Homo sapiens: one gene and its partner. Each later gene encodes a partner of the first gene's protein in a complex. Each region holds a gene or a part of one and is shown in the gene's direction. Other genes may lie near its edges.

Region 1 (3,745 bases):
ACTGCCCTCCAGCCTGGGTGACATCTCGGAAAAAAAAAAAAAGAATTGGGAGTGGGTAGCAATTGCTTTGCCACCTTAAAAAAAAGTTAGACTGGGTGCAATGGCTCACACTTGTAATCCCAATACTTTGGGAGGCTGAGATGGGAAGATTGCTTGAGCCTAAGAGCTTGAGGCCAGCCTGGGTAACATAGTGACACCTCCTTTCTACAAAAAATTTTAAAAATTAGCTGGACATGGTGGTGCACATTTGTGGTCCCAGCTACTCAAGAGGCTGAGGTGGAAGGATCTCTTGATCCCTAGAGGTCAAGGCTACAGTGAGCCATGATTGTACCACTGTACTTCAGCCTGGGTGACAGAGCGAGATCTTGTCTCAAAAAAAAAAAAAAAAAAAAAAAAAGCAGGGAAAGCTTTTTTGGCTTTTCCTAGAAGTCCCAGCTAGTAATGTCTGCTTCCATCTCACTAGCTTCCTGATGTGGTAGAAATGCCATGGTAGCCCCACAGGAAATCACCTCATGTGCGCCTCCCACCCACAGGCTTCGCAAGGCATGGTGGGTCAGCTGGCGGCACGGCGGGCGGCTGGCGTGGTGCTGGAGATGATCCGGGAAGGGAAGATTGCCGGTCGGGCAGTCCTTATTGCTGGCCAGCCGGGCACGGGGAAGACGGCCATCGCCATGGGTAAGAAACCTCCCAGGGCAGGAACTCTCCTGTTTCCTGCTAAATAACTCCTCCTGTGTAAGTCAGGGTCAGGATGAGCCGCCTTTAACAGATGACCCAAAATGGCAGTGGCTTAAACACTCAGGATTCATTCTTGCCCATGGAAGAATCTAGAGGTAGGCCATTTGGGGCTTATTAAGCAGTTCCAGGAAGTCTTCCATCTTCCTGCCTCACCATCCTCTGCACTTGGTTCCAGTCAAGAGGACGCCATGTTCCAAGAGGGCTGCCAGAGCTCCAGCCTTCCCACTCATAACCCAGGCAGCAGGAAGAAAGGAGTTGCCATGAGGATGAACCCCCTCGAGTTGGCTTCCTTTAAACAGTCATTGGAAATCCTCCATGCTTCTGCTTATATCTCATTATCTCATTGACTAGAATGTAATCATATGATCACACTCTGCTTCAGGGGAGGCTGGCACATTAAATGTTTTTTAAAATTTCATAATTTGGACCATTTTTGCCTTAAGAAAATGAGGATTCTTCTGTTGGGCAAAAGGTTGTTGTAAAAATAAAAAATTAAAAAAAAAAAAACAGGAAAGAAAATGAGGGTTCTAGAACTAAGGAAGAAGGGGAAGGTGGGTATTGAGGAGTCACCCAGCAGTCTTTGTTGCAGTCCGCTAGTGGTTTATGATCTTTTCACTCCCAGCTGTTCCTCTTCTTCCTTGTTGAACTCCTATTTATCCTTCAAAACCCTACTTCAGCATCTCTGCCCCATTGAAGCTTTTCCTAACCCACTGCTCTTCCCACTCACTCCCACCTCTGTGCTGAGGCTGGGGCCAGGCAGGGAGAATCAGAGTAACAGCCAGGTCTTCAGTGAAGATAAAGCAGTGCCTGTTGGGGTGCTCGGACTGGACACTGGGGACCCATAGATGAGTTAGACCAAGGCCTGACTTCAAAGAGCTCCTGGTCTGGAGGAGGTGGTCATGGACACGATCCCTTCCAAGGCGACATGTGTTACAATGCAGGTAGCATGTGACAGAGGAGGCTCCTGACCTTGGTAGGAAAACGGGGCATGTGGTGGCATTTGTTGCTAGAGGCTTCCAGAGAAGCGGATACCTGAGCTAAGCCTAGTAGGATGGCCAGGAGGCTCCTGGGCGGACACTGGGGACAGCATGTCCAGGCCCAGAATGTGGCACACACAGTAACTTCCTTCCCTCCATCCTTTCTGCTTTCCTACTCTTCTTCATTTTTTTTTTTTTTTGAGACAGTTTCACTCTGTCGCTCAGGCTGGAGTGCAGTGGTGTGATCTTCGCTCACTGCAACCTCTGCCTCCTGGGTTCAAGTGATCCTCCTGCCTCAACCTCCCAAGTAGCTGGGATTACAGATGTGTGCCACCACACCCAACTGATTTTTGTATTTTTAGTAGAAATGGGATTTCACCATGTTGACCAGGCTGGTCCCGAACTCCTGACCTCAGGTGATCCACCCCCCTGCCTCGGCCTCCCAAAGTGCTGGGATTACAGGCGGGAGCCTGTAGACTTTATTTTTTAGGCATGTTGTGACTGTGCCCGGCCTCGCCTTTCCTCTTCTTGTGTCTCCCGCAGGCCTCCTGCAGGCCAAACCCTGTGCTGGGCAGCACTGGGGTGAGGCTAGCCTCGCCCTGGCGGGGACGCTTCTTAGTCTAGTGAAAGAGGCAGAGAGGACCCCTGGTGTCCCCAGATGGCATGGGCCGTGCTCGTCCACTCAGCCCTCAGCAGATACTTGCTGAGTTCTGTGATGAGGGCCATTGTGTATCCGCAAAGAGGACTAAGAACAGGTCCCACTTGACACTGGGCAGGAGGGTGTGGTGTCAGCCTGTCTGAAAGGGCGTGCCCCACATTGGACCAAACCTTGTGGCCAGGGAACTGGAAGGAAAGGTCTGGCGTTCAGAGCTATTGCTGGAGACAGACCTGCTTCCTGCCAGCCACCCCAGGCCACCGGCGGTAGAGCGTCCTGCCCTGTGCCAGTTTCAGGCTGCGCAACCGTGTTACTGCTGAGCACCAGTGCCTGCCTGCCTGCCTGCCCATAGTCACTCCTAAGCAGGGTGTCATCCCATGCTGGCACGTGTTCTGTTATCATCCCCATTAGACAGAGGGGGAGACTGAGGCTCAGGGAGCAGTTCAGATCGCTCAAGATCCCACGGCGCCACCTGCACTTAAGTGGTGGATCTGGGATGGGAGCCGAGGCAGTCTGCCTTCATCACTTGTAGCTATCGTGTGGGCTCCTTGGCCTTCGTCCCTGGTCCCCTTCGTCCAGCTCTGAGGCTAAACAGCTCGTAGAGGCTGGGAGACTGAGGTGTGGCGAGGTTCTAGGGTGTACCCTCTGGGCAATGTGGGATTCTAAGCCAGGCCTGCCGGAGCAACCTGCCCTGCCTGGCTTCTCACTCACTGTCTGCCTCATGGCTGAACCCCGCTCTCCAGTTCCCCCTCCCCAGCGCTCTGCTCAGCTCGGAGCCAAGTCCTTACATGTAGGATGGCACTGAACCCTCTTTCCTGGGGTGGGAGAAAAGCTAGTTTGCCACAGAGCAGGTGTCGGGGACCTGGTGCCAGAGCGGCTTCACCTACACAGACTGCCTCCTTCCCAGGCATGGCGCAGGCCCTGGGCCCTGACACGCCATTCACAGCCATCGCCGGCAGTGAAATCTTCTCCCTGGAGATGAGCAAGACCGAGGCGCTGACGCAGGCCTTCCGGCGGTCCATCGGCGTTCGCATCAAGTAAGCGGGGGACCCGAGGCGGGTGCCAGACCCCAGAGCCTGGGAGCAACCCCGCACCCCGGGCGGCTCGTCCTTTGTCCCAGAGCTCATGGAAGGTTGTGATTCCCGAGGGTCCAGGTGTCAGGCTGTCTCCTCAGATCTGCTCTCTGGCTAGGGAGGAGACGGAGATCATCGAAGGGGAGGTGGTGGAGATCCAGATTGATCGACCAGCAACAGGGACGGTGAGTCTGTGTGAGTCTGTACCCTGCTGAGGCCACCTCCAGCGCCAGGGTTGGAGAGAGTAGATATCAGGTCTGCACTGAGGTCAGAATCCCATGGAATGTTCTAGCTGCAGACTAGAG
Region 2 (3,745 bases), on another chromosome or scaffold:
GGCCCATGTGGTAGGGGTCAAGGGTCAACCTGGTCCAGCCCTCTGTGGGTCCCAAGGTGGAGGAGACGCAGTGCTGGGGTCCAGGCCGAGGGATGCCTGGTGAGCCCCATTTCTGCTTTGGCAAACATCCCCCTTTCCTTCTCAGGGCCTGTGCCTGCATTTCTGAACCAGAAGGTGTTTATACAAAACATCCTGGGTTTGGCGACAAATTCACCCTCAGTGAGGAATCCTTAATGAATCTCCCTCCTTCCCCACACCAGGTGGCTGAAGGAAAAATTAGCTCTGCCTCTGGTAGTTGAAGGCAGCCAATGGCTAGGCAACATAGAGGTGCTGCTGGGGCTTCTGGGGCCACAATTTTTGGGGAGGGTTTTTTCAGGGTCCGGAAATGGCATGGACACCAGGCACTCCTGGCTTGCTGTGTGATGAGGCACTGCCTTTCTCCTGGCCTCAGTCTGCAGCTGTGAAATGGGGCAGTAATAATCCCATCCATACAAAGGTTGCTTTGACACTCAAGTAAGGCAAGGGGTGTGAAGGGGCTTGGTTACAAGAGGTCAAAAGGAGAGAATAAAACGCTGGAATCAGGGAGGCGAGACATCAGAGTGATAATATCGGTTCTGCTCTTTAGACTTTCAAAGTCCTTTCCCAGCGCCTTTTACAGCCATGTGGGCTCAATGCCTCCTTCCCTCTGACCTCCTGCCTGCTTCCCCCCCGCCCATTCTGTTCCACATACGCTGGCTGTTCCCTCTGCCTGGAACACTCTTCTCCTAGGCATCCACATGGCTCACCCCTCACCTTCTTTTCAAAGCCTTGCCTCTCTCTGAGGTTTGTTTTTTCCAGCTATCCAATGAGGAGTTTGGGCGTGAAGACCTCGTGGGAACCCTCTGGTTCTGATGGTAACCATTTTCCACCTGCCTGCCTTCTCTGGGAAGTCCTCCCAATCCTACCACCCACACCCACCTGCTTTTCTGAGCTAGCACTTCATTGCTTACTGCCCATAGTTTTCAAGTCCCTTCCTTATGTATAGGCCAGCTACTCTGGACATTGGGCCCAACACAGGGGCTCAAGTGAACTCTGGTTAAACGGAATTAAAAGTGATTACTGCTTCCTTTGTTTTTTGAGACAGAGTCTCGTTTTGTCACCCGGGCTGGAGTGCAGTGGTGCCATCATAGCTCAGGGCAGCCTCGACTCCCCAGATGCAGGTGCTCCTCCCGCCTCAGCCTCCTGAGTAGCTGGGACCAACGGGCGCGCCCCCCCTCACCCAGCTAATTTTTTTTTTTTGTATTTTTAGTAGAAACGGAGGTTTTACTGTGTTGCCCAAGCTGGTCTCGAACTCCTGGGCTCAAGTGATCCCCCCGCTTTGGCCTTCCAAAGTACTGGGATTACAGGCATGAGCCACTGCGCCCAGCTGATTCCTGCTTCCTTCCGATCCTGTGGAGAGACACTGAGGCGGATTTTTATTCACCCCCTTTTTATAAATTAGAAACTGAAAGTGTCAGAGATTAAACATAAGTCACACTGCCACATGGGCCTTCTTGGTGTTTCTTAGCCAGGGGAAGAATAATATTTCCCAGATCCTAATCACTACCTGCCACGGTATATAATTGTTTTGCCATTAATTGTCGGTGTTTCCCACTAGGATGAAGTTCCATGAGGGCAGGGATTTTGTTGTGTTCACTGCTGCATCCTAAGCACATAAAACTGCTTGGCACATAATAAGTGCTCAAGAAGCATGAACCGAGGGAGTAACGGGTCAGAGGCAGCCCGAGGACTGAGCTCTCTGAGCCTGCAGAGGGCGCTCCAGCCCCGCCCCCAAAGCTAGGCCCCGCCTCTCGCAGCCGGCTGGCGCACTAGTGTTAGAGCCTGCGCACCACCGTTCTTTTAACTGCGCAGGCGCGCCGGAAGCACCTAGAGAGCGGCGCGTGCGCAGCGGGAGTCGAAGCGGAGATCCCGGGGTCGCGCGAGAGCCGCAAGCGGAGTTGGTGGGCGCTATGCTATCACCCGAGGCAGAGCGAGTGCTGCGGTACCTTGTAGAAGTGGAGGAGCTCGCCGAGGAGGTGCTGGCGGACAAGCGGCAGGTGAGAGGCCCCTCCGCGGCGCTGGGGCCTGGCGGCCGGCGCCGTGGGAAAGCGCGCGGGGTCGCAGTGAGTTGACCTGGACAGGCGGTTAACGGCTCCGAGGCGACAGACCTGGGCCGATAAATATTCGGCCGCTACTAAGTGAGCGCCTGCGCTATGCTGGACATTCCTCTCTCTTCATCCTTTCTCTGCCCCTTGCCATGCTCTGTGGATCTCGACCCATCATGCTCTGGGCCGTTTCCCTGAGCACCTGTTTCAAAATGCACTTCCCGGCCCCATGGTTGATCTAGGGGCACCGCCCTGTAAAGGCCCTCAGGGGAGAGCTGGAACCGAAAAGAAGCCTGAGGGGGCCTTGTGACCGGGCAGGGGTGGGGACGTGGGGGAAGGTGGCGCCCTGTTTATGGGGTGTCTTGTTTTAAGTGCCAAGTTTTTGAGGGGAGTTCCTGGGGGAAGGAGGGTGACGTAATTGGATTTAGGTTTTAAAAGGATCCCCCCTGGCTGCTGTGTGGAATACAGAATATAGGTGGGCAAGGGCGGAGGCAGGGAGATGGGTGAGGGGCCATTGGTATGGTCCAGACCAGAGATGGATTTGGACTAGGTAGTGGTGGTGGAGAGAAGTGAAGGGGTCAGAAATGTATTTTGGAGACAGACTCAGTAGGCCGTGGTAGTGGAGCCGGGGGAGTCGTGACTCCCTCTCATCTCCAGTTAGAAGGGTCAGGTATTTACTGAGAAGGGGAAAACTTGGGCAAGATCCTGTCAAATTAAGTACTGGATCAGGGTGTGCTGGATGAGAATAAGAGCAGTTAAAGTTTATCAGCTACTTACTATGTGCCAGGTACTGTGTTAAGTCATTTAATTGCTGGCTCAATAACCTGTAAGGTAGGTACTGTCCGTAGCTCCATTTTGAGGAGGAGTAAATAGGAAGGTGAAATTACACAGCTTGAGGCAGATAGCAGGATTCGAACCTGGGTATTCCAAATCCAGAACCAGCACTCGTGCAGTATACTGTACTACTGCGTCACTTCCTTAGTAGCTATTGTGTTGTTACCACTGTCTCAGTGCCCCCAATCCTGCTGTTCCAATCTAGTATTGTTGGGTTTCTCATATTACTAGTTCAGAATCAGCTGGAGAAGTTTGTCCAAAAATAAACATTAGGCCTGCTTAATCACAGTGTGTAGGGGAAGGGTTTCCACTCCCCTGGTGATTCTGATATGCCCTAAAGTTCGAGTGGATAATGCAGAATTTCCCATTTAGTCAGCACATGTTTTCTCAGCATCTTTTCTGGGGAGAGGGCAGCTGCACAAAGCATTGTCTTTAAGACCAGGAAGCTGAGTGAGAGAAGAAATACATTCACACATCAATCCATTTTAGGCAGGACGTTGAATGTAATCAGGAATAATGCATTGCCTCTGCAACCCTTGTCTGTCAAGAGGTGACAGCTTGGGGCAAGAGATAGCTGAGTTCCCTCCTGTCCCTGTGGTTTTCAGATTGTGGACCTGGACACTAAAAGGAATCAGAATCGAGAGGGCCTGAGGGCCCTGCAGAAGGATCTCAGCCTCTCTGGTAAGTTGAAATTTTCTCAGTGCAGCCCTGGAGGCCTGTTCCGTTTTCCTTTAAGGCCTTTACCTTGTTCCTGATAGAGATCAGGCAGGAGGTCACAGCTGTATAAC

Evidence for each region.
Region 2: RUVBL2 (region 1) and PDRG1 share a complex: the UniProt entries of both Homo sapiens proteins name them as parts of the PAQosome complex.

Annotation. Positions count from the first base shown.
Region 1 is NC_000019.10:49,003,744-49,007,488, forward strand, and holds part of RUVBL2 (ruvB-like 2), read left to right. Parts: intron 1-463; exon of another isoform or gene 464-512; coding exon of another isoform or gene 513-533; coding exon 534-675; intron 676-3,274; coding exon 3,275-3,404; intron 3,405-3,558; coding exon 3,559-3,625; intron 3,626-3,745. UniProt on the Homo sapiens protein: Possesses single-stranded DNA-stimulated ATPase and ATP-dependent DNA helicase (5' to 3') activity; hexamerization is thought to be critical for ATP hydrolysis and adjacent subunits in the ring-like structure contribute to the ATPase activity.
Region 2 is NC_000020.11:31,950,205-31,953,949, reverse strand, and holds the start of PDRG1 (p53 and DNA damage-regulated protein 1), read left to right. Parts: upstream 1-1,903; 5' UTR 1,904-1,988; coding exon 1,989-2,075; intron 2,076-3,562; coding exon 3,563-3,638; intron 3,639-3,745. UniProt on the Homo sapiens protein: May play a role in chaperone-mediated protein folding.